Linked DNA regions of Homo sapiens. The protein of the gene in region 3 purifies or fractionates together with the protein of the main gene of each other region. This does not show direct contact. Each region holds a gene or a part of one and is shown on either strand. Other genes may lie near its edges.

Region 1 (8,022 bases), on a different chromosome or scaffold from region 3:
AGCATCGTAAAAAAGACTACATCAATAGTTTTCATTTCTGACACAGTATCCAAAAACTCTGATTAGAAAGGCTTCCAAATAAATAATTACTTCTTTGTGTTCTTGCCTTTAATACCAAATATAAGAAGTCACTAAATTTGTTTTTAAAATATTTTTCAGTGAAATAGAGGTTAATGCTATGAAAAATAGCAGTGTAAAATTCACAGTATCTGCCATAAATCACCAACCATCATCACGGACTCTGAAAAAGAAAATGATGGTTTTATACACAATGATATTTATATAATATCCTTCTTTTTTCCCAGTATAAAACTTCCAAGTGAGCATGCTCTCTGATTCCCAAATGTCTAGCTTATTTTCTACTCTACTGAACTTTCTGGACCTCTCCCTATCAGTAAACTTAGATGAAATAGTAGAGAACATGATAAAATTCTCTAGAACACTCATGTAAGAAGTTTCTTTAAAAAAAATCATTGCAACAAAATACGGCAAGAGAGTATTTTAACCATGGTTCTCAGAGTTTCAACGTAAAGAATAGCTGTTTCACATTTTTATTCCTTTAATGTTCGTGGCCAGAGATAAAACAAATTTTGCCACATATTCAGCAAAACATTTAAGATTGTGCTTTAAGTGCTGAATTAATAGCATGCATAGCAGTGTGTGTGTATATAAATATATAAAATGTGTGTGTGTGAGTAATTGGTCATCCTATCTTTCAAATAGATTAAAAAATTTAACTTCTAGTAGAAAATGATTTTTTAATTTATCAAACAAAAGAGGTTTAAGAGTTGGTAAAGCACCTTCTTGCGTCAGGGCCTCTGCGCTCACAGGTGCTTCTGTCTGGCCTGCTGTAAACTGCAAATACCTTCGTGGTTCATTCCCTTATGACCTTCAGATTCCTATTCTAATACTGTCTGTCCAGAGAGAACTTCCCTGATTATCCTTATGAGAATGGATACCACCTCCATTCTCAGGGATCCTATTATGCCTCCTGATTTATTTTTCTCCTAGCATTTATCATTATTTAACGTACCATATGTTTTGCTAAGCTACTTATTAATTTGTCTGTTTTCCTACACTAAAACGTAATTTTCAGGGCAGGAATTTCATCTATTTTGTTTACTTAAAAATAACCCCAGCATCTCAAACAGGGTCTGACATCTAAGAGATGCTCAATAAATATTCATTACATGAACTATATACACCGACTATATACAAGATACAGACCACCCTCTTTTGCATAATGATTACTAGAAAATTTATTTCAGCTTCCTATGTGGTGTATCATGGCTTGTTGAGATGTTAAATGGAACAATAGTAGTTTTCCAGTTGATTTATTTTTTGTTTATGAAATTTTAAAATGCTCCTTTAACATGATAAATTGCCTCTTGCAGACATCCATCATCATTAATATGTTGAGTGTGTGTGTGTGTGTGTGTGTGTGTGAGAGAGAGGCTCATGTCCTGATTCATAAAAATCTGTTTCTGTGTTTTTAACAAAAGCTATTAGTACCTACCAGTATAATATGTTTGTATTATTAACATGAAGGTGTTGGCCACAAACCACTTTTCTTTGGGAATCTTGGAATGAATTCAATGAACAGAAAAAGCAGGACTAACCTGATCTTCATTCTTACTGGCAGCATCTGGGATGAAAATATAGAAACCAAAGTTAAGGAAATGTAAAATATTTAATAAACAAAACAAATAATCCATTTAATGCAGCATCTTGATTGCTTTAATGACAATATGTTGTAAAACCGCAAATGGTTTTTGAACACATTAAGATTTATCATGGCAAATAAAAGAAGGGCACTGGACCAGGAGATTAGTATATATACTCACAAAGGTCTAATCACTCAGAAAGTTACAATTACTTTGGAAAATAATACTCATGTGAATTCTAACCCCATCAAAATAGCTTATCTTCAAAAGGTCCTTTCGGAGTAATAAATGCCAGCCTCCCTTTTAAAATTACAATATAACATACACACAAAATACTATACCAATTATAATTTTGAAACTATATTATAGTTGAAACTATAATATAGCATTACATTTATAGGATATATACATAAAATTTAATTTTCTGAATTCTGGCAGCTCTACCTCCTTATTACAGCTGCAAAAGTTAGAGATCTGACAGAAGGTAAGATTAAGGTCACAGGCTATTATACTCTCTCATTAACATAGGCTCTTTTGTACCTACACACCTATTTTAGGAAAATGGGCATTATTTGTATATGATTTCAGACTATCTATGAGTTTCTCTTTTTAAAAATTTTAATGTTTCAGAGCAACGTAAGTCTAGGCAATTTGTGTTCTCTTAGGGTTAAATAGCAAATATAAAAATCTACCTTCCAGCTCCCACAAAAGTCCCTCACTCTTTGGGAGAAATGCTTTCAACCCATTTAGCATTTGAAAACACAAGACTAAAATAAGCTAGAAGATACCACTGCTTTAAAATAAGAACAGATGATTGAATTTTAAAAAATATTTCATTTATACCTATAACATTAAAATACATATATTATTTACAATTAAGTTTTAAATGTCTATTACATATATAAGAATATGCATTATGAATTGATACATTTAGCAAGAGGAAGATGAAGAAGAATCTATTCAGTTTTCTGAATTAATAAAGAATTAATGGAAGAATTTCTCATGGTTAGAAAATTCAGATTATCTCAAACTACTTGCCATTTCTAAAGATAACAACATAATTATAAAGCCACATATATAAATCTTCAGAACTCTGTGTCTGGCAAGACATTTCAGGATTATACATGCATACGTAAACATTTTTTGGCAGGAGTAGGGGGAGAAAAGTCCCTTCCCCAGGGCTTTGAGATGTGTGGCAAGAGGCTTAGATTACACACAAATTGCTCACCTTGTATGAGGCAAAGAGCCAAGGGCAGAAGCACTGACACTGTGGCTATCTTCATGTTGAAGACGATGCAAGTCGCCTACAGGTCCACTCCATGCATTGCTCAGCTGGTGCAGTATGACTGAACTCGGGGCGATGCAGTTTACTTTTATAAAGCACTGGTGACACCCACATAAAACCAGTTGTTCAAGGTCATGGGACTTATATACCACACCACTTTAGCTTCCATCCTTTAGGATCCTGTCAGGGTGTCAGGTTTGAACAGAGAATATCTATTTCTAAAGTAGGAATGTTCTTTCATGGTACCTCCCCCAGAACGCAATTGATGGAGTCCACAGACCCTACTCAAAGTTGAATATTCTATAATCCTATATAATAACCGAATTCCTCAGAAATACCAGATATACTACCTCGTAGACAAACATGTTTCTGACTGGACTCCCTTCATAAGTGGGAGAGGAGAGGAAAGGAAGACAGATTGGTTGTCCTACCAGTCAGGTATAGATTTAAAGATTTCCACATCCAGAGAAATCCAGGGTTCCTGTTCTGAAGTGTCTGAGTTCAGTGTCACAGACTCATATATATGTTAGAGTTGAACGACCCTAAAAGATAACCTGGCAAAATTCTAATGTTGAATATATAGGGAGGCAGGAACTCAGAGGAGCAATGACTTTCTCATAAGCAGACAGTTTAGTTGGAGCAGGCAGAGGAGGCATCCAGCACTTGCAAGCAGACCACACATATAACATTCTTTCCTCTCTGTACACTGCTTCATCCTTAGACATTAGAAAAGGCAGGAACGTTGGAAAAATAAAACTTGTATGTAACTACTTTTAAAACTTCTCAATCTGCAGGATATTTTATATTCTGAAGCCTTATTTTATATCCTAGCCAAACATCATAATCATAAACATTGGAGACTCAGTTTAACTTTCCATAGCCTATGATTACCCATATTACCGTTTGAAAAATTTGGCTCAATCAGTTTTCTCTAAATCATATTTCTTCCTGTATCATCCCATTATTTAGTCTCCCAAAAAGAAAAGAAGAAAAAAGTTGTTAACAATTATAAATGTGTAAATGTAACATTTTTCTAGAGAAAGTTTCTTCTCTTTAGTTGCTTCTTTCATCCTACAAGTAACACCTTTTTTCTACCAGCTTATTTTGCCCTAATAGCTTAAGAAAGCACCTGAAGAAACATGTGAAGATGACTGAAACCAGAGCCAAATTGTTTCATTCCAGTACTTCTCAAGATATTCACATCCACAGAAGAAAAGTTCGAGACTTTATCCAATTAAAGGCCTTTTTATGATGGTTCCAGAAAACTGATCAAAGTTGCCCAACTTAGGGAGTATGCCAATATTATGAGATTTATCACAGTGAGATAATACGTCCTTTCTTTTTTCTCTCATGAAATAATTTATTTCCTATAAAAATATAATCACTGGGCCAGGCACAGTGTATCACGCCTGTAATCCCAGCACTTTGGGAGGCCAAGGCTGGCGGATCATGAGGTCAGGAGATCGAGACCATCCTGGCCAAGATGGTGAAACCCCATCTCTATTAAAATACAAAAATTAGATGGGCTTGGTGGTACGCACCTGTAGTCCCAGCTACTCTGGAGGCTGAGGCAGGGGAATTGCTTGAACCCGGGAGGCGGAGGGTGTGTGAGTTGAGATGGCGCCACTGCACTCCAGCCTCAGCGACAGAGCAAAACTCCATCAAAAAAAAAAAAGATATACACACACACACACACACACACACACACACACACATACATATATATACACACACATATATATATATATATAAAATCATTGGTTTCAAGGTCTGCACTATTGTTGTAGCTTGGCTCCTTTCCAATGGAATAGTAAAATTAGTGACCACGGAAAGCAAGTTCAAATTCCATTATTGTTACAGGTTAGAAAATCAAAGTCCATCATAGCTTAATGGAAAGAGAATGAGACAGGGTTTCAGAAATCTGTTTCTATTCTATGTAGTCTTTTCAACTATGTAGGGATAGAAATGAACCCAGCTTTGAAGCAAGCTAGAAATGGGTCCAAATCTTGAATTGTTAGCCATGTTGCCTTGGACAAGTCACTTATTTTCTCTAAGCCTCAGTTTCCTAATATGTAAAATAAAAATAATAACACGTACATTGTACTAGTGCTAAGAGGTTTAGAGATAAATCATATATATAATGCGTGTGTGTTTGTGTGTGTGTGAGAGAGAGAGGTGCTTAGAACAATTATCAAGTTTATGTGATAAGCTTGATAGTTAATGATAGCTGGTCTTGCATTTTTACATAATTATAATAACGTGGTTGTACTAGATAATTTCTAAGATACCAAGAAAAGTAAACATCTGTTGACTGTGGATTTCACCAATAGATTTATATTTACTCAGCATAGAAAAACTACCCCAACACAATTTGAGGTGAAATTAAACTATAACGATATATGTTCTCTTTTTCCCTTTTAATTGTATTTTAAACCATAATGCCTAAACAAATCGAAACATCACCTGTTAAAACTTAACGAAAACCATTGCTCTGTTTCAATCAGCATTGATTTCTTGTCTCTTTCTCTAAAAGCCTCTTCTAAATATTCACATATCAATACTAATTTTTTATCTTTCATCTGCCCTGTCAGACCATACGAAATGTGTCCCAACCATATATTCTGTTATTGACGGTAAAAGAGTTTGATGCCTTAAAATGGAATCAATGACTGTGTATTATGCTCTAGTGACCCCTAGCCTAGCCCAAATGGAGAATATTCCCAGGAGTGGAAGTGGTGCTAGGGTGGAACAGAAGAACCAAAAGATGATTGCCTGTCTTAGGAATCTCTACTATGAGGAAACATTGAAGACATTGGTTTCCTTCTTACTGGAAAAGAGCTCCTCAGAGATGCCAGCCTTTTCTGAAATGATGAATAAAAAGTTTGAAACTGATATCTTTTCCAAATGGAGAAAGTAGTAAAAAGAAGATTCAGTGAGCACCCCCAAAATTGGAAGTACTCATCAGCTGGCTCATTTCATTAGGGCTTCTTCTCCATTTCATTTTAGGAATGTTGTAAAGCCAGAGGTGATTCATCACATGCTCTGTTAATTACTCCTCATTCCTGAAAATCACCATGAATATTACATTTAAATGAATGGGATTGAAGGTTTGGAGAACTCAGGTTTGGGTCAGAGTTAGGTTATCAAGGTATTCTTCTAACTCAAAATATCATCCTTGTTTTTAACTCTTTCAATTATTCATCAAACATGTAGAAACTTTTTTCCTCTCATTAGAAATGAGTGGGCTTAGATAATAAAAACTATGAATTTTACAACCTTACGCATTTATGAGGTTGGCAGAATCTGAAGGATACTGATACAGGGGGAGGAAATGAGAAAATTATAAAGATTGTTGTAGATCAGTAATGTTACTACAAACAAAGGTTATTTCCAAAATATAAAGTTACCATATCATTCCTAAAGTCTTCTGTTTTTCTACACAGAGGGAGCCTTGATGACGATAATAGTTAATAAATAACTATAGTCTTTTATGATTAGATCACCTTCCACAGCTTTCAAAACAACCTGCCATTCATTAGCTCTTTTGATTTGTTTATGCAGTGTTGTGAGGCAGCCAATTAGGTGTTATTATCTTTTCTTTACCAGCCAAAATTGGTGTCATAAAAGAAACCTGCAGTAGGAACTAGCTGGGATGGTCATCTCAGCCTTGACACTTTCTTACATTTTATACCTTTAATTTCTCTGAGTTTCCCCACGGCCATCTCACAGACTTTTATACCGTTCAAAGAGAATCCAGATCGAGACCATCCTGGCTAACATGGTGAAACCCCGTCTCCACTAAAAATCCGAAAACATAAAAATTAGCCGGGCGTGGCAGAGGGCGCCTGTAGTCCCAGCTACTCCGGAGGCTGAGGCAGGAGAATGGCGTGAACCCGGGAGGCGGAGCTTGCAGTGAGCCGAGATCGCGCCACTTCACTCCAGCCTGGGAGACAGCGAGACTCCATCTCAAAAAAAAAAAGAGAATCCAGACGTTACAGTGCTTTAAACTAGATACAGCCCTATGCATGCACACACACACAGACACACATACACAATCACTTGGGCAAAAAGAGGTATGTTGTGACCATGAGTAAAATTTATATATTCTAATATATCTTAAAAGATGAAATAATTTCTTTTTTATTTTTTTATTTTCTTTTCTATAATTCTAATATTTTCCCCCATCAATCTAACATGTCTATATTCTCCTGTTTGTTTGTTTGTTTTGAGGCGGAATCTCACTCTGTCCCCCAGGCTGGAGTGTAGTGGTGCAATTTCGGCTTACTGCAAGCTCCGCCTCCAGCGTTCATGCCATTCTCCTGCCTCAGCCTCCCGGAATAGCTGGGACTACAGGCGCCCACCACCGTGCCTGGCTAATTTTTTTTTTTTTTTTTTTTTTTTTGTATTTTTAGGAGAGACAGGGTTTCACCGTGTTAGCCAGGATGGTCTCGTATCTCCTGAACTCGTGATCCACCCGCCTTGGCCTTCCAAACTGCTGGGATTACAGGCATGAGCCACCGCGCCCGGCCTATATTCTCCTTTGTAAAAGACACTAACTGGAAAACAGCCTTTACTCATCTTCTTATCTGGTAATGTTGCATTACCAACTAACTTCACTCTCTCTGTAGGAATTCCTTTCTGTTTGTCTGGAAAGACTAAGAAACTAGAGATAAGCCTCTCATTTTATCTAATAATAGAATGGGATGGGCATTGTTTGTTTACTGAGTATATAGACCCTGCTATTTACAGACATAATTACTGCTTTTATTAGATTAGGATTAAGAAGACAGGAATTTCAATGTCTAATTTTTAATTGTATTAATATTTTCATATGGGTTATATTTTATTTTAGAAACAACAATCAGCTTCTCCCTATAGCTGATATTACTTGAACCCCTGACCCATGGCCCCACACTGTTTATCACTCAAAAATTTAGTGCATTTTAAAGTCTCCTAGGATTTATCCTGACAATAGAAAACAGAGGTTTGAGGAGCTACAGTCTTTCAATAAATCATAACAAATTAATCCTGAAGTACCTAAGAGTCTACCGGCCGGATGTGGTGGCTCACGCC
Region 2 (7,023 bases), on a different chromosome or scaffold from region 3:
CTCAATTGCTGTAGAGTTATATTCTGGGAAAATGTGTCTAATATCATTGTGAGAATCACTCATGATCTTTGCATAGCTTTGAAACCTCACAGATTATTTCAAAAAAGAAATCCTCACCAAAAGTCAGCTGTTATTTTTTATGCCTTGAAATGATTACATTTTAATTAGTGCTCATCCCTGAAAACAGCAACAATACAGTTTGACAAATTTACTTCTCTTTAATTTTAGAACCCAGCTTTTGATCCCCATGAAACCTAAATATTGCAAGGGCAACCTAAAATGTATGAAGTATTCTTCCTCTGAGGATCTATATGTTTAAAAAAACTCTATGGGGAAAGGAGGGCCCTTTTTGGGAAATTTTTGTTTGGTGATCTTTCCACTTCTGTGACCAGTCTTAGTTTAGGCACTCACCCAGAGCCCAGAGGCTAATTCTCTGTTCTAGTCTCTTCTACTTGCTTCCTACCGCAGGGTCACCTGCGCTCATCAGCCCTCATCAACTCTTCTGTGCCATTGTACTGAAGCCCAGAATGCCTGGTGTGTCATGAACATGCCTCCATGCTGGCTCCCAGACTCCCTTTTGCCTCTCTGCTTCCTAGGTGTGCTATGCTCTTCCATATCTTGCTCCCTTTTGTTTGTGTGTGTGGTTTTTTTTTGTGTGTGTGTGTTTGATTACCTTTCAAATTTCCTTAGACATCATCCTCCTTTAAAAGAAATCCTCAGCAGGGTGCAGTGGCTCATGCCTGTAATCCCAGCACTTTGGGAGCCCAAGGCAGGTGGACCACGAGGTCAGGAGTTCAAGACCATCCTGGCTATCATGGTGAAACCCCGTCTCTACTAAAAGTACAAAAATTAGCCAGTCGTGGTGGTGGGCGCCTGTAGTCCCAGCTACTCGGGAGGCTGAGGCAGGAGAATCATTTGAACCTGGGAGGCAGAAGTTGCAGTGAGCCGAGGTTGCGCCACTGCACTCCAGCCTGGGCAATAGAGCAAGATTCCATCTCAAAAAAAAGAAAAAGAAAAAAAGAAAAAAAAAATCCTCAGCTTTTCAGGCTCACCTCAAAATCCACTTTTCCAAAAGATTGTCCTAACTTTTCCACATGGACTTAATTGCTTCTGCCTCTCTACTCTTAAAGCATTTTAAGGAAATTTCCATGATGGGATTTGTTTTGTGCTTTTAGGTAGTATATGTAGTGATTTGCATGTGTTTCCCATTTTTAGGACTGTCACTCACCCTAGGCTTTCTTAGTTATCATTGTGGATTAAGCGCATATATTTGTCAGTCCCATTGTTTATTTCTAAGGCACTCAAAAATTGCTAGAGATACCAAAAAGAAATGGCTCCATGAACCTAACCATCCCAGCGAGCCTCGTAACAGCCCTATTTTGAAGAACTATTGAAAAGAAGGATTTAATTGAGTACTTACAAATCAGTAGCAGGATGCCCAGAACCATCATGCCAATCCCTGCTGGTCCAAGACCAACATTTGAAACTCCAGCTTGGTCTTCAGTGACAGGCCCATACGTGTCACCAGTTATGTCCTCTGTGTAGATGCCCGCGGCACCAGAGTCCAGGCACATGTGGTTGTCATCGCAATCACAGGCATATAACTGCACCATTTGTGCCAATTCACATGCTCTGTTATAGCTGTCCTTCACCAGGATTGGGATTTCATAAAATCCTGGAGATAAAACCTGCTTAGCCGTAAGGATTGCCGAGGTAGCTGAAATGGAAGAGAGGAAACAGAAAATAAATGGAAATTCCTTGGTGGGCTAGGGGGGTGGTTAACTCTCCCTAATACCAAATATTGACTTAAAACACTAGATTTTTCATGCTTTCTTAGTCATAAAGCACCTTGTACTTTTTTTTAACATTTATTTAATTTATTATTATTATTATTATTCTTGTTATTTTTGAGACAGAGTCTCATTCCTATTGCCCAGGCTGGAGTGCAGTGGCACGAACATGACTCACTGCAGCCTTGGATTCCTAGGTTTAAGTGATTCTCCCACCTCAGTCTCCTGAGAAGCTGGGACTACAGGTGTGTGGCACCATGCCTGGCTAATATATATACATTTAGTAGAGACAGGGTTTTGCCATATTGCCCAGGGTGGTCTTGAACTCCTGGGCTCCAGCAATCCACCTGCCTTGGCCTCTTAAAGTGCTTGGATTACAAGCATGAGCCATTCTGCCTGGCCTTTTTTACTTTTCTTTCTTTCTTTTTTTTTTTAACATTTATAACTAATTTTTAAATAAGTATTGCTTACTGCTGGATTGCTACTTCTATAATGCAGGCAAGGACCTTGCTGCATCTTTCCAGAGCAACAGTAATTGGCATATAATATACATTCAATAAATATTTGCCCAATGAATAAATAATATTGAGCTGAAAGAAAATATTAGAAGTCTTCTATTTAGGATTACAGTTTACACAATACCCTCCTTAAGACTGTTTATATGTATCTTACTCAAAATTGTTGCCCTTTCATTTAAAATTGTTCACATTCTCCTAATTCTTTGTGCTATCATTGCCTATGAATTTTCATAAAACATATTGTCTAAAATATTCATTGGAATTTATTTATTAATACAAGGAGTGTTGAGATGATTAAATTTACAGCTAAACCATGAATAGTAACTGATTGATCCATAGCACACAATATTTTTTATTATGATGGTTTATTATCCTCAGTTAGCTAGATGGCAAGCCAGCTATGTCCACCAAAATCTAACCTGTGCACAAGGTAAAAATGAGATAAGGCAATGCCACAGCACATTAAGTGAAATTCATTCTGTTCTAAAACACCAGCAAGCATTGAAACAGGTCTCTAGGAATATCATCTCCAGTGTGGTTATATTTTTTATTGGCAAACCTGTAATAGCTATAATATTATACCTCCATGCAGAACATTTTTTCTTACATGTGTAATCATAATATCTAGGATCCGAATGAGGAAAAAAGTGGTTAGCAATTATTATTGTTTATGAATGGGCTATTGAGCTTTATAGGAGATGGTGAATTCAGAGTTGACTTGATATTAATGGAATTGCTTTAACATGATTAACTTTAAAAAATATTAAAGTGGTTTTGTTGAAAAGAGCTAAAGGTTTGATGGTAAAAACAAATTGCCTAATTTCTTACTTTATTGGTGGTATTTTCCCCACCTTATTTTAGGGTTTCTCCATTCTGTAAATAGAGGGGCTTGGTGACCTTAAAGAGGTGGGAAGTATTTCCTCTCACCCTGGGCTCTGTAGTCTGATGGCCACCGACTAGCCCATGAAATTTTCCCTGTAGCCCCAAATGAATATGAGATTGGGGAGCTATCTTAGCCCATATGAGATCCTCTCATAGCATTTTCTTTTTTATTATGCACTTAACGTTTTAGGAAAAAGAACGCAAGGTAGATAAAATGTTATGTTATCTGAAATTTATTCTTAATTTTTATCGATGTCAGCCATTCAATTGTATGTAGTTATAGTCAAGATACATACATATACAACTTCGTGATCTGTTTTTCACTTTACTTTCTTTGGTTTATGCATTCTTTTGTATCTACATACTTTGCATAATTCTAATTTTAATGGCTGTATATTAACACATCTTAATAATATGTACTCTGTTTAATCATTCCTCTAATACTGAGCAATTTGGATTTAAATTTTTACCCTTAAAAATAAGTCTGAACTCATAGTTACTGTAAAAAACAATTTAATTGATTTTATGTGCTCCTAAGTGAGTAGTAAATGTTTAAATGTATCTATGGGATATATGAGTTTCAGAGACATTTATGTGATTTGTCTGAATTTATTCAGAATAGGGAATTGTGACATTCTTAATTTATGAGTTTGTTAAGGGTTCTGTTTATTTTAAACTGAATAAATATTGGTTCAACGTTTTACCTACTCAAAATGATGGGTAAACTGGTATTTATCCACTACTATTTGTAAATTAAATATTAATGAAACATTTTGACTCATTTCATTTCAGTTCAAAATTTTATCAAATATCCTCTGTGTACATGAAATATTTTTTTCATTTAATGTTAATATGGCAAGAACTGTGGAAACAGAAGTAGAATGTTTTATTAAGTGACTTGCCACATTTTTTGGTAATTGTTTTGCTTTTGGACTTAAAGTCCAAAAAACAAGCTTACGTTTCACTTACCATTTGTTGATCTGACATCCCACATGTCAGCTATTCCTGGTGGCTCATCAACAACACAGAAAGTAAACGGAGACCCATAAGAATGTTCATTAACAGAGATAAGGACTGATGGAGAGTCAATGCAGATGGTTCTTCTTTCAGGAAAAATGTTTGGACAATAATCATTGATATCAGGAACCTCAATACATATGGTTCCTGTAGCTGTTTTTCCAGAGCCATCTGAAAGAGTAAGGGTCATTGGTGTTGAGGTAAATGGTGTTAGGGAGAAAACTCTTTCTCATATCCCCTGATGATGCCATGGAACTTGTAGGAAACATATACGTGACTTGGGAGGCTTGACAGGTTCCTGCCCGCTTCAGTGACCCAAAGTCACTCTTCCCTTTGTGTGCTACCTTCCAGCCACACTGCTTCTTTTGAGTTCTTTAAACAAGTTTCTTTTTTACTCTGGACTCTGGCACATTCTTTTCACCCTTCCTAAAATGTTTTCCACCCTCATTTCATTTTGCTAATTCTGACACATCCTAAGGCGCAAAATCAAATGTTCTTCCTCCGAGAAGGTTTACTGGTTTCTAATCTCACCCTGTTCCCATAAATTAGACCCCCAGGTCAGTTATGAACCTCCATTCAGGATGCTCACTGAGTCCTGTGTTTGTAGAAATAACCACAGCTGAAATAAATACTTGTTTGTGTTTTTCTTGTGTGCTCACTGTTTATTTTAATTGCATCTGTTACATGCTATTTCTTTCTGAAATGGCATTTCTGAAAACAAATATAAGTCTATTAGATTTTTCCCTAATCCACTTGAAACAAGTTTTTGGATAGTATAATTAATCAGAAAGGGCCAAAGACTAAAGATTAGGAGTCCAGGAGCTTTTTAGTCCACTTTTCTACTCTATGTTCTGTTACAGCGAATACGGAATTTTTTTTGCTTCTTTTTAACTTGAAAAGAATCTTAGCTTTCTCGCTTTTAAACTAGAACGTTGTCGTCTCTGGGGTACCTTACTAGGTCCTTTTCTGAGAAAGCAATAAATTCCTTTTACAGATGTTTTCTGTGTGCCTAAGTAGTAGTCATTGAGGTAACTGAATGAGAATAAACTGAGAGCCTACCTATAGTCTATATGATTTTGTATAATATGTTTATATACCCTATTCAGCATTGGACTTGTTTTTACTAGATGAAGGATGTCGATTTCACTTAGCTTCTCATTCGAGAGGCATCAGATTATTCCACAGATTGTTTTATTTGTCATTCTTTGATCTTTGGTAGCTCTTCTATTACCTTGTGATTGGCAACCAAAGCTCAAGCTATTGCTTATAGTGTTTGCTTCCCAGTAAAGTTTGCTCTGCATAGAGGTCTGTCTCTTCACCTGATGATGGTGTGTGCTGAAGCAAACTTATTCCAACCATTCAGATAGCTCTGTGCCAGTGCAGACACTCTGCTTAGGTGAATAAACAATCAGCTTTGTTTCTGGGTTTCTCTTGGTACATTTTGACAGCACTTTCTCTCTCTTTATTTGCTTGGAATGACTAATTATTTATTCTAGCATTTGAAGATTTTTCACATATGACCAATATGCAAACATAGGGTGCAATCAACATGGTTAGAATCCATTTTCAAATTAGAGCTTCCAGAATACTGATAATGAATAAGACAATGTTATTTATAAAACTGACCCAGGCGTTAAAATTTACCCGCCACAGGATGAAGCCCAGGATGTACAGATGATAGTTGGTTTGGTTTTATCATGGTTTCTTTTTGAATTTTATGCTGCTTCTTTATCTTTATTTTTGTTTTGATACTGGAAAGGTCAGCTATAAACTCAATGCAAACCTACAGTATCTGTCTTACATTAGGCATGTATCTTGGACGCCTGTCTTTCCCCTTCCTTCGTGGTTCCTGACCTTTGTCTCTTGTTTGGTTCTACAGCAGCTGGTTTCCTAGGCACTGCTTCATAGAATCATTAACTATTGATAAATAAACAAATCCTGTTGCTGCTCACCAAGAGGACTGCTTAACAGATTTACCCATGTGAGAGGTGGCTCGCTTACAAGTTAAGTCAGTGCATCTGTATTTATGACTTTTAATATGGATCTTATATTTGGAATAATCTGTGCTTTCTTGGTCCATAGCATCTTACTATGGAAATATGTCTAATCAAGCAACACTCACACAAGCTTCTCACTGTAGTTCAGTTTTAATGGATCTAAAATAATTGTATTCTTGGAGACATTGCTTTCCCACAAGGTGATCCCCAAATGAACTTTGTAGAGCACGTAGCCCTTACTTTAAGTAAACATTCCCAACATACCCTACAAGTGAGATTAGCCATACTCAAGAGACAAAGTCATAATCAGAAGATGAATTATATTTTAACTTTTATGCTGTAAGCCATATACAACTCAGTTTTGGAAGTAGATGAAATAAACTATGGCTTCAGTGTAAATTATGATTTTAATTGACTTCAATTCTTGATTTAAGGTGTTTAGGGCTTTCCATAAGTCTTGCATACACCATTAAAAATGTCTGAGTCACTCAAATATCAGCATTAGAATAACATAATATTTAATATAATAGTACTAGTTTTCTTAAAATACTGAAAATAAATTTTCTTACCATCTATAGCCAGGATCTCTGCTGTGTATATCCCATTGATAATATATTTTGACTTCTTATCAAATTCTCTAGAAAATTGTATCTCACCAGTTCTTGAATCAATTTTTAACCAGCTGCCTGCATCATGCCCTATGATATATCTGTTTTTAAATAAAAAAGTTCGTTATCATGCTTTTATGAAAGTTAGTACTTTTAAATCATGTAACAGCTACAATGTGGCAAACTTTAATATTGTGTTTTTATGTTTTAT
Region 3 (7,250 bases):
CTCCTTCCTCCTCCTGCCCCAAGAAAATGATCTCTTGAGACTTTTCAAGGTATCCTACAAACTACTACTGGCCACATTCTAGTTTCAACTTCCCGCCTTACTACTAGCAGCTTTCTGCTTCCTCCTCTTAAATCTGTTATTTCATTAACACCACACTTCTCTGCAATTATTCTTTATTCTTTCGGGGTATGTGAAAGCACTCACCTACTCCCCCAACATATCAACCCTTCAAGTACTTCAAAAAAGTTTTCATGAATCCTATTATATGAATATTATATATTAATGCCCTACTATTCTTCATATAAATACGCTAGGTCCTTCCATCTAACTAGTCCTTAAATTAATATCTCTAGACCCCTCACCATGCTCTCAACAGATATTTTATTAATAAATCTTCAATGAAATGGGTCATTAAAACTAAATATAACACTCTAAGGTCAATGCAGAACAGAGTGAACTGCATTCCACTCTAGGGATGCCATGCTTATCTTAATGCAAAATAAGAATACAGTTAGCTTTTTATCTGCCAGTTCTCACAATGGACTTCTCGTGAAGACAGTGATTAACAGAAATCTCCACACAACCAACTCTTCGCCTTCTGCAATGCCTTCTGCAATGCTTTCGGTATTCAGGAACTACTTATTAAATACCTACTATGTGCCAACTCTAAAGTATAATTACTTCACCAAGATGGTAAATATTCCATCTTGCTTGCTCTGGCAGCCTAAGAGTAATAAAGACCTTTCAATAAATCAATGTATTTGTTACCTTCTCCTTCCTACAAGAAGTGTAAACCAGCAATAATGTAAAAGGAACCAGTGCTTAGCTTCAGTGAGCTGGTACTATCTATTCCCAGCAGCACCTAGAAAAGTGCCTGACATATAGAATTTAAAGACTTTGTTTAAATTTTTTAATTATGGGAGAAGAAAGCTGTAATATAGATCAGTTTTTACATCCGACCCCTCACACTGTACCTTCTTTATGTAGCTAGAAGTGACTTCCATCAGACACACTCCTAATTAAGAAAAAAATTCCAGCTTTGAAGATAATTGATGGTATGTCCTTCTGACTGGGGTACGGGTTTGTTGCCCAATTTCAATGGATTTAAAATTTGAGGGCCGGGCACGGTGGCTCACACCTGTAATCCCAGCACTTTGGGAGGCCGAGGCGGGCAGATCACGAGGTCAGGAGTCCAAGACCAGACCGATCAACAGGGTGAAACCCTGTCTCTACTAAAAATACAAAAATGAGCCAGTTGTCGTGGCGCACGCCTGTAATCCCAGATACTCAGGAGACTGAGGCAGGAGAATCGCTTGAACCCGGGAGGCGGAGGTTGCAGTGAGCTGGGGGATCACGCCACTGCACTACAGCCTGGGCGACAGAGCCAGACTCCGTCTCAAAAAAAAAAAAAAATTGAGTCACGTATACTTTCTATCTGCCGTGTTTACCTGCAAATTCACTTTTTGTGTTTCCTATTGACTGTAAACATCTTGTGGCCAGGAACCAGTGCTTCTTTCCTAAAGCTGTCGTTTGCTCTTGCAGTCATCTCCCCAGAGTAAACACAAAAGTATCTCAAAAGTAAGTGTGCAACAAAACTTTCCCTTCAAGGGGAAATCCCAACCCAACATTACTTCACATACAGAATTCTGGTACTCATTTTCTCTTCCAAAGTAGAGACTGGTATTAACTAGTTCCTAGAACTGCCAGTAGGAGCCCTACGACAAGCTCTTCTCCCATCTTGTCCTTGCCCCGCCCCCTCTGAAGTCCAGAAATGACTCGGCTTCTAACTTGTATAATATAACCCTCTACCAGGTACACTTTTCTCAGCACTGGGAATAATCTGACACGCCCAAGGTCATATAAAAAGCCTGCCTCCTGAACCAGGTTCTAGGTTCGGCGGACAAACTTCTGGTTCTACTACCTCTAAGGGTAAGACCCTGCTCAATTTCAGAGGCTGTGGCTTAAGCACCTCCTGAGGGGAGCAGTTTCCTTCAAGAAATACTAAGCCAAGTCAACCTGTAATTATTCTAAAGAATGCCAAGAGGCCTCAAACCCTGCCTCAAAGGCAGTGCAGCAAGACGGTAAAGATTCTCACTACTAGCTATGTGATCTTAAGTCCTCCAAGGCTCACTTTCATCACATTCGAAATGAAAACAACCATATCTGAATTTGGAGGAATCCTTGTGATGATTAAATGAGACAGTGCATCCAAAATACTTACTGTAGTGTCCAGCAAAGCAAACTCTTAAAGTTAGCTAGAATCATCACTATAAACCAGGCTGGGCCTCCAGCCGGCGCTTGATTAAGCGCTGACTTAGCCAAGGAACTAGGCTCCGATTCTATGACCCCAATCAACTTATTCCCGTAGGCGCCACTCCACACCCTTCCGAGCTCCTTCGGGTATTGGGCGCCGGCCGCCCCAAACCTCCCAAAGCCCCTCTCCTCTCAATCCAAACGCTTGGAGGCAGGCTGCACCAAGGCATTAGCTGGCGCACTCCCCTCCCGGAGCCCCCCAGGCGCGCCTCCTGGCCACCGCAGCCAGGGGTTGCCTCTCTCCCCTCCCCCTCCGCGACCTCCCTTCCCCTCCCCCCATGCAAGGCCCCGCCCGCCCTCCCCCCCGGCCTCGTCCTCCCTCCCACCCCCTCCTCCCTCCCACCCCCTCCTCCCTCCAGCCCCTTCCCACAGTGCCTCCGACCCCAGCTGCCGCGCGGTTCGAACGAGGCCCTCCCAGCGCCTCCTAGTCTCCCGGCCTCCTCGGACAGAGCGCCCGCAACCCCCGTCTCCAGTGGCCATACCGGCTTGCGGAGGCCGCGGCCGCCGCCTCTCCGCAGGTCTCCGCTGAATGGGCGGACGCGAGGCCACTGGACTGGGGCGTCGCGGGGAGGCGGTGGTCACGGCCCCCTCGGTTGCCCTTCGCGACCGCCGCACCTCGCTCGCAGGCTCGCGCGGGCCCCGGCCAATCGCGCTGACCCAACAAGCCTAGCGAGAACTTGGGCTCTGTACGTGGCAGGTGGGGGAAGAACAGAGGCGGGAGCAAGAAAAAAAAAAATGTCCTTTCGCCCCTCCTTATTGCGCGTGGACATACCCAGGACGCATGCGCGACGGCGCGAGGCGCAGGGCTGGCTGGGTCCCGGCTGCCTAGGCCGAAGAGTCCCTGCTTTCTCACTGGATGACGGGATTTAGGAAGCGTGAGCTGCCCCGATGCACGCATGCGCGGGGCGTGACCACGCACTTCCGGTTTTCTCGAAAGCGGGTATTTCCGTTTCTCGCCAATGGGCGGGGCGTAGTGCGCTGTTCTAAACTTTTTGAGAGTTGGTTGCAGTAGACGTCTGTCCAACTTTAAGTGGTTTTTGTCGTTATTGTTGACCATTGTAGTAACAGCTGAAAAAGAAAAAACCTTTTCTTCTATAAATCCATTCATTCATTATTGGGAGCCTATGCTTTGCCAAGCCCGGTTCTAGGAATGGGGGTGAATCATTTTGTGAGCAAGGAGTTTCCAATTAAGCAGGGAAGACCTACAGCGTTTATGAGCAAGGAAAATCTGTAACTGTGTAAAGGACAAAAGCTGGGAAATTAAGGCTAAAGATTCCTGAGTGATTTTTAGAGGATAAGGCATTTGAGTGTGTCCTACGTACTCTTCCCTTCTCCCTTACCTGTTCAAATAGAAATACAGTATGAGTAAGTAGGAATTTATAGCCAAGGGGTGGAAGTCGGTCAGTGGATGGAAAATTACTAAGAGGAAATATCAGGGGCAAGGGAGATTCTGGCTAAACCAACACAACAGGATTCTAGACGAAGATAGGCCAGGATAGCAGACATCACCTGGGGGTGGTGGAGGATGAGGAACCCCATCAAGGGTGAGGGATTCTCACTACACTGCCTTAACAAGGTTCTTTGCTGAAACTGAGTTTTACAAGAAGATGCACAGATGGTCCTAGGAGAAGGCCCAGGAGCCCGAAGTTTGGCCAAACGGAGAATGTTTGTCACTTCTAAGGTGGAGACTAAGCTGATAAATAAAGCATTTAGACCCTACCTGGTCTCCAGTTGTTTACCAGTTATAAAAGAAAAACTTAAGCTGAATTAAATTTAAAGGAGTTTAATTGAGCAGTGAACGATTTCACGAATTGGGCAGCCCCCAGAATCACAGCAGATTAAGAGACTCCAGCAGAGCCACGTGGTGGAAGATTTATAGACAAAAAAAGGGAAATGAGGTACAGAAATTGGCAGTGAAGTACAGAAACAGCTGGATTGGTTACAGGTTGGCGTTGGCCTTATTTGAACACTTAGCAGTCTATGAGTGATTGAAGTGTGGCGGCTGGAATTGGCCAAGACTCGCTTATTGTAAGAGACGCATACTTCTAAGTTAGGTTTTCAATCTTGTCTGTTAAGCTAGGTTACAGTTCATCCACAAGGATTCAAGTATAGATGTATGGAGTCCTTCTCAGGCCATATTTAGTTTGCTTTAACACCAGATACTCCTAAAGGACCTGGAGTAAATTCTGGTGTTTCAGGGTGAGAAGCTACGTTCTTTTACAACCATAAGTAGTGTGATCTTTTTCAGTTATAAGTCTCTGAAACTTCTGTTTGAGAGTGAAATAATGTAAGTTTACACTGTTCACTTCTGATTTGTATTTTCCAACAGTTGTATTGACCTTTGAGCAATTGTTTGCAGGGATAAGGGAGTGGAGTACTGCAGAAGAAATGAAAAACAGTTCCTAATTGCTCTCCAAAGAATGTTATTCATTGCTTATTTTTTAAAACTGAATAATACAGATTTGGGGAGATGCACTGCTGTCAGATAATAGTATTATGATGTCATTAAGATGGTTTGGGATGGGGTAAAACCACAACCATATGGCAAAGGTAAAATATTCCCTGAAGGAAGTGAATTATACTACTGTTATAGTAGTATATTTAAACTAAAAAGAGGTCAGATCCTGAGGCAGGAGATAAGGAGGTGAACCTTGGCCTATTATAAGGTGAAAAGAGTATCTGCTGAGGATCCCCAGTGAGGGGGCACTCAAGAGTCCTGCTACTGAGGAGAAATAAGCTGGTCCCTGTTACACTGTGGTCATCTGTACGCTAGGAAGAGAGGCACCCATAAGCTGGCCTTGTGGAAAAGCTGGAGCTCATGGAGCTCATGGACTCCGAAAGCAACTTGAGGCTCTTTATGTTGTAATTTCCCTCATGCTTCATCCCGAAGCCATCAGTAAAGTCTTCTTTATGGTAAAGCCTATTCCCAGCTACTTCTGTGGAACTTGAGAGGTGGGGTTCTGGTGATTTCTCAAGTCGAAGCTGATGCACATCTATGTACTTAAGCTCCCAATAAATACAGGTGATATCTAGTGACAGAGCCATAACCTGAATTGAACCAGTTACCTCACTTACAAGAAGATGGGTCTCTTCTACTATGTCTGTAGATACATACTGGCCTTCTTTTCTGCATCTAGATGAATTTGGTTTTAAATGAACACTGAGCATAGTCTTGAACTAGAAAATACTACTCATTTCTTCCAAGGAACTGCTAAGAAAAAAAAGAAAAGAAAATACTGCTTAATGGTAGTATATTAAAGTTGAGGATATGTGAAGGAAGGAGAAGGAGTGCAAGGAAATATCTTTGACCCAGACTGTAGCAAGGAAAGATATGAGATTCTGCACTACACAGGTTATTTTCCATGTTTCATCTGAAGAAGGGTTAAGACTTACACTGTGATTTTAAGAGAAGGAGTCAACCAACCAACTTAGCTACCACCTGCTCTTTCTCCCTGAAAGTCTGTGTAGCTAAAACTCCTCACATGGAATGGGGGGAAAAAATCCTAAGAATGAAAACGGGATTCTCAGACTGGACAAGAAATGAGACAAAGACTATGAGCCCTGTTAGCAAGTTAGATAAAATCTATGTTTCATCATGTTCTTCTTTAGTACTTAGTATAAATCATTTTGAAAATTTGAGTCATCTTATATGTCCTCAGAAGAACAAAGGAAAGCGTGTACATTCCTCCTTGGATGAGAATTTCCAACGAGAAGTTATGTCCCTTGCCAAGAATCAGCTCTGTTGTGGCAGCAGCTAGCTAAAAAAAGAGAACTCCAAACAGAAGGGGAATCATGAGGACCAAACAGGAGCCAGCTAGTCAGCTCAGCCTCACCTTCACTGGCTAAATGTAAAGATTTGCTTGTGTGAACATAGGAAGCTGCCACCCTATGCAGAGATAATGAAGGAGAAAGGAACGATTTCTTACTTTGTACCTTTGAGTGAGTGATTCTTAGCACTAGCTAAGCAAAATACTTCAACCTGTCCTACCAGCTTCACATCCGTGAAATCCCTAAAATGCTTTTGCCTTACCATGATGCTCTATGTCCAATCTCTCTTTAGAGAAACTACTCTCAAAGGCAGTTCTTCCTAGATTTTGTATCACTAGAGGCTGATCTAGACATTCAATACATAGTTATTGAATAAAATAATGAAAACTAAGTTCCCCACCACTTTACAGGGCAAGCTCCCAGAAAAAACAAAAGGATCAGCTGTCAACGGGTAAGTTCCTAACTCCCTAGCCATGTAGGATTTGTCTCTTAGTAATTTGAAATCATTCACTTTTCTTCATTTACATCCCCTGGAGACAGTGCTAAGTTACCTCTCTGCTAAATTACCTGTCAGATTTCAAGTTGAAAGAGAAATGCAATTGTGAGCTGAATTGCATCCTTCCCCCAGAATTCATATATTGAACCACCTCAAAAGGTGACTGTATTTGGAGATGGATTCTTTAAAGAGGTGATTAAGTTAAAACGAGGTCATTGGGGTGAGCCCCTAATTCAGTATGACTGATGTCCTTATAAGAAGAGGAGATTAGGACACACAGAGAGAAACCAGAGATGGGTGCACACAGAGGCAAGGCCATGTGAAGATACATTAAGAAGGCAGCCTTCTGCAAGCCAAGGAGAGAGCCCTCAGAAGAAACCAAACTTACCAAATTTTTATTTCCAGCCTCCAGAACTATGAGAAAATAAATTTCTGATGTTTAAGCCACCCAGTCTGTGGTGTTTTGTTATGGTAGCCCTAGTAGACTCATACAAATGCCACAAGATGTGCAAGAAGATATAACTTTTCATTTGATCAAGAGTAGCTTTGTTAGGCTCATTTAAGAAACCTAGGCCCAATTAGCCGGGCATGGTGACATTCGCCTGTAATTCCAGATACTGGGGAGACTGAGACAGGAGAATTGCTTGAACCTGGGAGGTGGAGGTTGCAGTGA
Region 4 (7,456 bases), on a different chromosome or scaffold from region 3:
ATGTCAATTAGGGATTTATATTTAGGGGATAAAAACTATAGAAAAGAAGGAAATGATTTCCATAAAAGTCAGGGTAGTTTCTGGCTAGGACCTCTGGGGGAGGGAGAGAGTGTGGAGTCAGATTCTTGACCTGCAAGACAGTTACACTTATGTTTTCGTTAAAATAATCCATCAAATTATCCATTTGTTTTAGACACTTTTTTACATAATTCACAATTCAATAAATCTAATGTTGATTTCTGGGAATTCAGAACCATGACAACAATTCTGGCCAACTCTCTCTGAATGTCACTATTTGCCTGTCAGCTTCATAAGGTCAGAGACCGACCTTACTTGCCTTCTTCCTCTGTATTCAGGCACAGCACCTTTAGCATGGTAAAAGTCCTCGGTAAATGTATAATATATAAATCCACAGAATCCTGACATGAATTTTGTTTTAACCCATCCATTTCCTGAAATTACCGGTTTGAAGGGTGCCCACATTAACACTTTCCTTTGTCTTCACCCAGGTGAAGTGAAGCTTTCATAAATAATAAAGCCATCTTAAATGTTAGCTCTGTAAGTTTATACCCAGGCCTTGGTTGCTTTAGCAACTCTCCCTGTCTTCCACTCCCTTTGACGTTTCTTTATAAGCAAAGACAAGACAATAGGCTAGTAGTCCTAGATTTTTTTTTTAAATAGGAAAGTTTTATTCAGCACCTAAGAGTAAAACCTAGGATCGTAATGATTCTACTACTTTGAAGTTGTTTAAAAGGGGTAATTTGCCCCTTGCCCTGGGAAGTAACACCGTCTATCAGGATTATTAAAACTTTACCAACAGTTGTACTTAAACACATTACTTGTTCTTGACAGAAGCCAAATCTTTATAAACAGGACAAGTCAACTTTAAAATAATTAATTTCGGTTAAAAAACCACTTTGTGCAAACGGACATTTATAAAAATGCTTAGAAAAGTCTAAAAAGATATACACAAACCGATCAAGATGCACTCGGCAGTTACTTTTGAGGAAGAGGTTCAAAAGAAAGCTTTAACCTTATTAGTAAAGTTTAAATCTCACAGAGAATGGTTAATGTATTTCTTGTGATTTTGGGAAAAGCATTTTTAATCCATTTTGCCTTAAAATCCCAATTGCAAAGGAACCCATCAAACATAGCCCTCCCTAAAGCCCACTTTTTAAAAATGTTAAAGTATTAAAGGATTTCCTGGACTTACATACTTGGCTAGTCTTTTATGATATGAATATACATTTATGCCATTCTATTAATTATTATTACAGAATTCATACCTGCAGTCAACCGATATGAAAGCTTTCAGATGAGAACTCAGGACACACACGTTCAACAGTGACATTAAAACGACTTGGAATGAAGGAAACTGTCTCCAGTTTTATGGTGGAAAGCCAAAAATACCAAGCAACTACCTCTCCTCCCCCAAGCGTCAGAAGATGAGTCAGAGCTGGAGGCAGGAATAGGGCCCATGTGTCAAGCCTCCTGTGCAGGGCTCCTTCCTACCTCCTCGTGGCAACCCTCGTCCCTCCCTCAGGTCAGGGTCTCTGCCCCGGCCTGTCCCTGATGTGAAGTGTCCCTGATGTGAATTCTCAGGCGTCTCTGGCGAAGAAGAGGCGTTCACTGTGGGGGTGCCTCCTTCCCTGCATTTCTCAAGGGAACCAAGACTGGGGGCCTTTATGAGTCCACAACAACTAACAATAACCAAATCGCAGCTCAAGGGAGTGGAGCTTCCAGACACACGCACAACTCTGCAAAGAATACAGCACCTTTGTTCCCCTGGTTTTAGAGAGCAGGAAGGAAATGAGCGGAGAGAAACTGTGACTTGTCCAGTGTTACTTAACTTTGTGGCAGAGCTGAGTCTCAGGCATGGAGCTGCCGGCTGGCCTCGGCCTCTCTGACTCTTAAGTGATCTGTAGAATGTCAGGGAGGACGGTCCAACATTCCATCATACTTCTGAGTGGCCTTAGGGACTAGGAATTCCAGGAGACTCTGGGTTAAATCTCTTGGTCCCTATTCTTTTAAGGTTACTAAGGATACCCGGAGTTTGCTCTTCGCCTCCGTTTTTACATCTGTAAAACGGGATGGTAACGCTCTCCACCCCCCTCTCTTATAAAACGATAATGAACAGCTAACGAGTTAACACACACTAAATGTCCGGAGGTCCTGCTGGATAGAAAGTACAAGGTGGTTTTAAAAAAAAAAAATCTCTGCATGGTAAAACTGCATTTGTAAGTCGCTCCTCCTTCCCTAGCCTCTGGGATGCCCAGTTACCATAACACTGGCTGGTACCACTGGCAACATCCACCTAAATAAAATACAGTTATACAATCCACTTAAGGCGGCCACAGCACGCACCCCCTCTTTACAAACAACAACTCAACTTCGCTCCGGAGCAAGGGTACTTAGGAGAAATAAAAAGACAGATGTTAGCACCGCGCACACCCATCTACCACCGCAGAGAAAGACTCAAGTTGGACACTTGGCATCGCTGAAAGTCAAGTTGCTTCTATCCATGCACCAGAAACCTCGGGGAGATGCAAAAAGCGGCGGCGCGCTCCAGAGCGGGTGGATGCCAGCGAGAGTAGGCGGCCTCAGCGGGGTCGGAAGGCGACGGAGGAGGCGCGGCCGAGGCTGCTGGAGCCCCGGGGCACAGGGACAGGGTCGCGGGGGCGGCGCGGCGCGGCGGGGGAGCGGCAGGGGGCGCACGCTCAGGGCCGGCGAGGGTGCGCTGCGGAAGGTCTCGGGCCTCTCCTCCGCGGGCCGCCCCGAAGAGTCAAGGACCGCCAGGGAGCAGGTGGGGGCGCCGGCACAAAGTTTCCAGAGGCGGGGTCGCGCGGGCCTCTGGGTCCCCCTGCGCCCAGGGACCCGAAGCGCGAAGTCCCGCCCTCCCGCCCCACCCCAACACCTTCCCCACAACCCCCACCCCCGGGCCTGCGGGTCCCCTACCGGCGCGGCGCGGCGCGGAGCGGGTTGCGGTTAGGGCTCCGTCCTCCTGCGCGGCCACCGGCTTCTGCGGGCTGGGCGCCGCGCGCGCCGCCTCCTCCTCCCTCCGCCCGCGCCCGGGGCGGGCCGCGCGCACGCTCCCTGCGCCTGGCCGCCCTCTCCCGAGGTGGGGGGACGCGACGCGGGGCGGGGGGACGCGCGGGGCGGCAGGCGGCGCGCGTGCGCGCTGGGCTTCTGCGCCGTGCGGTGTGGTCCGGGCGCGCCCTAGCTCCCGAGGCAGCAGCCTCCCCTAGAGCGCTCCTCCGTGCAGGTCCCCTGGTCTCTTACCCTGCCTCACACACCGGCGACCCCTCGCTTCCCCAGTCAGCGTCTGCGTATGAGCCGGGCTCGAGGCGGGCTGCGGGGGCGCTCTGCTGGGGTGCTTTCGGGATTGGAGAGGATTAAAGGCGAGAAAGCAAATCCGATACAGGTGTGAAGCCGCCGCGGGTGGCTCGGGACGGCCTCGACCCCACCCCACCGCCTCCCTAGCCCGGAGAGCCCGGGGGTTGGGACCCAAGAGCGAAGGGAAAATCAGTAGCGCGGCAGTTCCTGGCTGACGCTTGCTGGAACAGGTACGGGCAGCCGTGGCGCCCGAGACCCGGAGGTGAACATGCAACCTCCGTGCGCATCTCCACCTGCTCTCGCCACGCCAAGGTGCCGTCCGAGTCTCGGAGCCCACACCCACCTCCCGAGTCCCCGAGGCAGGGCAGGGGTTCTCCGGAGCGCAGGCGGGACACGGGCATTTGAGGGCTCATTTGCTGTGTGACTCTGAGGGTCTTTTAAAATTCAGGTCTGCCCATCTGTAACATAAGTCGGTGCGAAACGGACGTTTTCCAGCACAGCCCCGCCTCCCCTCCGCCTCTGGCAGGTGAAGGGAGACACGTGGGAGGCAAAGCGACTTCCTCAAGGCTCTGCCGTGAGTCAAGGCACCTAAGAGTCCTGACTCCATGCCCAGTCCTTGACTCACCAGCCCCTGCTCCTCGCCGTTGCAAATGGTTGGCCTCAGAATTGCTGAGCAGTCAAAACGAGTAGGCATGGGTTTGCGGGGAGGGGTGGAGGGGAGAAGTAAAACCCGCGTTTGGGGTTTACATCTCCCGATGTCCTCAACCAAAAGCTTTGAAGCTTTTTCATGTTCTTCCCGATCTCCACTGCCCAACCGGCTTCAGAGTCATCCGGTGCGTGCTGGACTATCTAAAAGTTAGTGATAATTTTAATCATAATCCTGGGAAACGAAAAAGGCCCAGACTAGAGAGATTTATTTTCGTCTTCGTAAAAAGAGAATCAAAGCTTTAAAATTAGGCAAAATTAATCTAAGAGAAAACAAAGCAGCATACTTTGCTAGATTCAGGAAACCACTGAGTTCAAATCGTGCCTGGGAAAAGCATCTTCCTAAAACTAAATTGTGACGTCAGTTCACTTAGTGACTTACTTGTTTACATGCCAATACGAAAAGAGCAAATCTCTAACAGAAAGGATTGTGTGTTTTCATTTCTGCTCAGCACCCCCTAGTCCTTGAAGCTTCAGTCAATTCAATGACTCAGCAACACAAATAGATGCATCCCTCTTCACATTCCAGCTTGTTACACTGTAGGCAGGTTTCCAAAACAAGCTCTAGTGACAAGGAGCTAGGCATTTTCATGGATTATGGGAACTAAACCTACCATGAAGAGTCAGTGAAGAGGGAGGTGGGCTAAAATAGAGTTTGTGTTGTGTGCGATGTGCGTGTCAAGATTTAGAGATTTAGAGATTAAGTAGAAAGAAGTGCTGGAGTCAGACCATTTAATGACTGTACAGACATGCCCTGGGGTAGGGAGGCGGTTTATGCCTTTACAGAATGTGGAAGTGCGGGCTTATACATGCCTGTACCAAAAATGCAATTTGAAGTTATTCTCTTCTGGACCAGCACTGTCCAGTAGAACTTTGTGTGATGATGGACATGTTCTGTATCTCCACTCTCCAGTACAGTAGCCACTAGCCTCATGTTGCTACTGAACACGAAATATGGCTAGTGTAACTAAGGAAGTGAATTTAAAATTTTATTTTAGTAAATTTAGATAGCCACATGTGGCTAGTGGCTACCTTACTGGACAGCACATTTCTGGACTATAAGTATGTGAGTTTTTTTATAGGTGTCACTTTTTCTTCTTTTTTTTTTAAGATAGGCTTCAGGATGGAGTGCAGTGGTGCAATCATGGCTCACTGAAGCCTCCACTTCCCGGGCTCAGGTGGTCCTCCCACTTCAGCTTCCCAAGTAGCTGGGACTACAGGCACGCCACCACGCCTGGCTAATTAGTTTTTATTATTTTGGGGGGGACGGAGTTTCGCTCTTGTTGCCTGGGCTGGAGTGCAATGGCACGATCTCGGCCCAGCGCAACCTCCGCCTCCCGGGTTCAAGTGATTCTCCTGCCTCAGCCTCCCGAGTAGCTGGGATTACAGGCACGCACCACCACGCCTGGCTAATTTTGTGTTTTTAGTAGAGACAGGGTTTCTCTACGTTGGTCAGGCTGGTCTTGAACTCCCGACCTCAGGTGATGCCCCCTGAGGTTATAGACGTGAGCCACCGCACCTGGCCTTGTTATTACTAAAGAGACCTAGTCTCTTTAAATAATATGTTGCCCAGCCTGGTCTCGAACTCCTAAGCTCAAACAATCCTCCCACCTCAGCCTCCCATAGTGCTGGGATTAGAGGCATGAGCCACTGCGCCTGGCAGTGTCAACTGTTGTGGATGTAGAAACATTTTAGAGGCTGTCTGCTATAAAATTACAATTTGTCTATGCCCAGGGAGGGTTTGGGTTCTCCTGACTCCCAGCTAAATAACCAGTGCTTTCGAGCAGGGCAGCATCTACGAAGAGTGAGAGCTGATATGATTAATACAGTAAGTAGAGGGTGGAAATTTGTACTCTGCTTAGCTTCTGATGTCTGCCTTTCCAAAAATATTCTCCTTAACTGCTTGGGCAATGACTGCTCCTTAGATTAATCAGACTTTTATGCGTCCCTCAGAATGAATAGTTGCATCTTCCATTTGTATCACTGCCTCTGGTTAACAAATTAGCAACAGCTTTGATCTGTCAGAATTGGGGAACAGCGGTCAACAAGGCTCCCAGTCTACAGAAGTTTGATTTCAGGGTGCCATCGGGTCTTGTGGCTCACAGAGATTCGGAAGGCCTGCTTGCCTGTGCCTCTAATTCCAAATTATATGCCATTGATGGCTATAAAAATGCAACTCCCCTGAGATAAGTAAATCTTTAAGCTACTGTCCTTTGGCAGATTTGAGAGGGACACTGGACACCAGGTTTCTGGGAGAAAAGATATCTTAAAAACTAGCAAGATAGAAGTCTCAGAAGTCTCAGAACACATTTCTTCTACTACAGAAGTTTGCCTAAGGCTTGTGCTATTTCATAAGATGTAAAGTAGCACCTTATCTAGATATCATAAGGATTAGCTAGATGTTATTAAATGTAAAATACTTTGAACTTCTACTTTCCGAGTTTTCACAGTTCTCATAAAATGTACTTTCCAAGTAATAAAGAATTGTCACATTACAGATAAGAAAAAGAAAAAAAAGCAAAAAGAGAAAAAGCATTGCTTACCACCATTTTATTACTTAACAAAACAACAATTAGCATCTGGATTTCTTTCTGGTCTTGATTGTATGCAAGATTTTTTACTATTGTTAACACAATTACAATCAAAGAATGCATACAGTTCTGTAACCTGACATCAAGCTTTTTGAGCCAGGCATTATAAAAGGGAACATTACAACATGTCTAGGATAATTAGGTAATTTCAAATCTGTCTCTGAAATGTTTTGCCCTTAATTCAACCCTTGGGCAGTAGCAATGATGCAGTGATGAGAATTTCAAGATAAACAACATCCTTGTAAAATGCACATCTGTCTGTTTTAACATTTGTTCTTGCAGATCTTCATGTCCCTCTCTGTGAGACTTTTGCATGATGTGAATTGGGTGGTACAGGAAAATCATGTACTTGCTCATACCTGACCGCAGTGAAACTAAATGTCAAAGGCTCAGTGGGAAAAGAAAAGGAAGGGAGGCACCAGGTGTGTTATATACCTTAACACATTTAATCTTTTGTTGTTTTTGTTTTGTTTTTTTGAGACAGAGTCTCACTCTGTAGCCCAAGTTGGAGTGCTGTGGTGCGAGTAGCTAGGACCACAGGCGTGCGCCACCAAGCCCAGCTAATTTTTTGTATTTTAGTAGAGACAGGGTTTCACCATGTTGCCCAGGGTGGTCTCAAACTCCTGAGCTCAGGCCGGGCGCGGTGGCTTACGCCTGTAATCCCAGCACTTTGGGAGGCCGAGGCGGGCGGATCACGAGGTCAGGATATTGAGACCATCCTGGCTAACATGAAACCCCGTCTCTACTAAAAATACAAAAAAAAAAAAAAAAAAAGCCGGGCGTGGTGGCGGGCGCCTGTAGTCCCAGCTATTCAGGAGGCTGAGGTA

What was found.
Region 1: the proteins of TFG (region 3) and SPINK5 purify together in Homo sapiens (affinity purification with mass spectrometry; 3 studies listed by BioGRID and IntAct, with this or other methods). This does not show direct contact.
Region 2: the proteins of TFG (region 3) and DSG4 purify together in Homo sapiens (affinity purification with mass spectrometry; 3 studies listed by BioGRID and IntAct, with this or other methods). This does not show direct contact.
Region 4: the proteins of TFG (region 3) and DUSP14 purify together in Homo sapiens (affinity purification with mass spectrometry; 3 studies listed by BioGRID and IntAct, with this or other methods). This does not show direct contact.

What each region holds. Positions count from the first base shown.
Region 1 is NC_000005.10:148,058,970-148,066,991, reverse strand, and holds the start of SPINK5 (serine protease inhibitor Kazal-type 5 isoform b preproprotein), read right to left. Parts: upstream 3,013-8,022; 5' UTR 2,948-3,012; coding exon 2,893-2,947; intron 1,646-2,892; coding exon 1,620-1,645; intron 1,586-1,619; exon of another isoform or gene 1,517-1,585; intron 1-1,516. UniProt on the Homo sapiens protein: Serine protease inhibitor, probably important for the anti-inflammatory and/or antimicrobial protection of mucous epithelia.
Region 2 is NC_000018.10:31,400,771-31,407,793, reverse strand, and holds part of DSG4 (desmoglein-4 isoform 2 preproprotein), read right to left. Parts: intron 6,914-7,023; coding exon 6,774-6,913; intron 4,379-6,773; coding exon 4,160-4,378; intron 1,718-4,159; coding exon 1,421-1,717; intron 1-1,420.
Region 3 is NC_000003.12:100,705,267-100,712,516, reverse strand, and holds the start of TFG (protein TFG), read right to left. Parts: upstream 3,024-7,250; 5' UTR 2,796-3,023; exon of another isoform or gene 2,696-2,795; intron 2,592-2,695; exon of another isoform or gene 1,449-2,591; intron 1-1,448. UniProt on the Homo sapiens protein: Plays a role in the normal dynamic function of the endoplasmic reticulum (ER) and its associated microtubules. Required for secretory cargo traffic from the endoplasmic reticulum to the Golgi apparatus.
Region 4 is NC_000017.11:37,485,458-37,492,913, reverse strand, and holds the start of DUSP14 (dual specificity protein phosphatase 14), read right to left. Parts: upstream 3,024-7,456; 5' UTR 2,956-3,023; intron 1,382-2,955; exon of another isoform or gene 1,287-1,381; intron 1-1,286. UniProt on the Homo sapiens protein: Involved in the inactivation of MAP kinases. Dephosphorylates ERK, JNK and p38 MAP-kinases. Plays a negative role in TCR signaling by dephosphorylating MAP3K7 adapter TAB1 leading to its inactivation.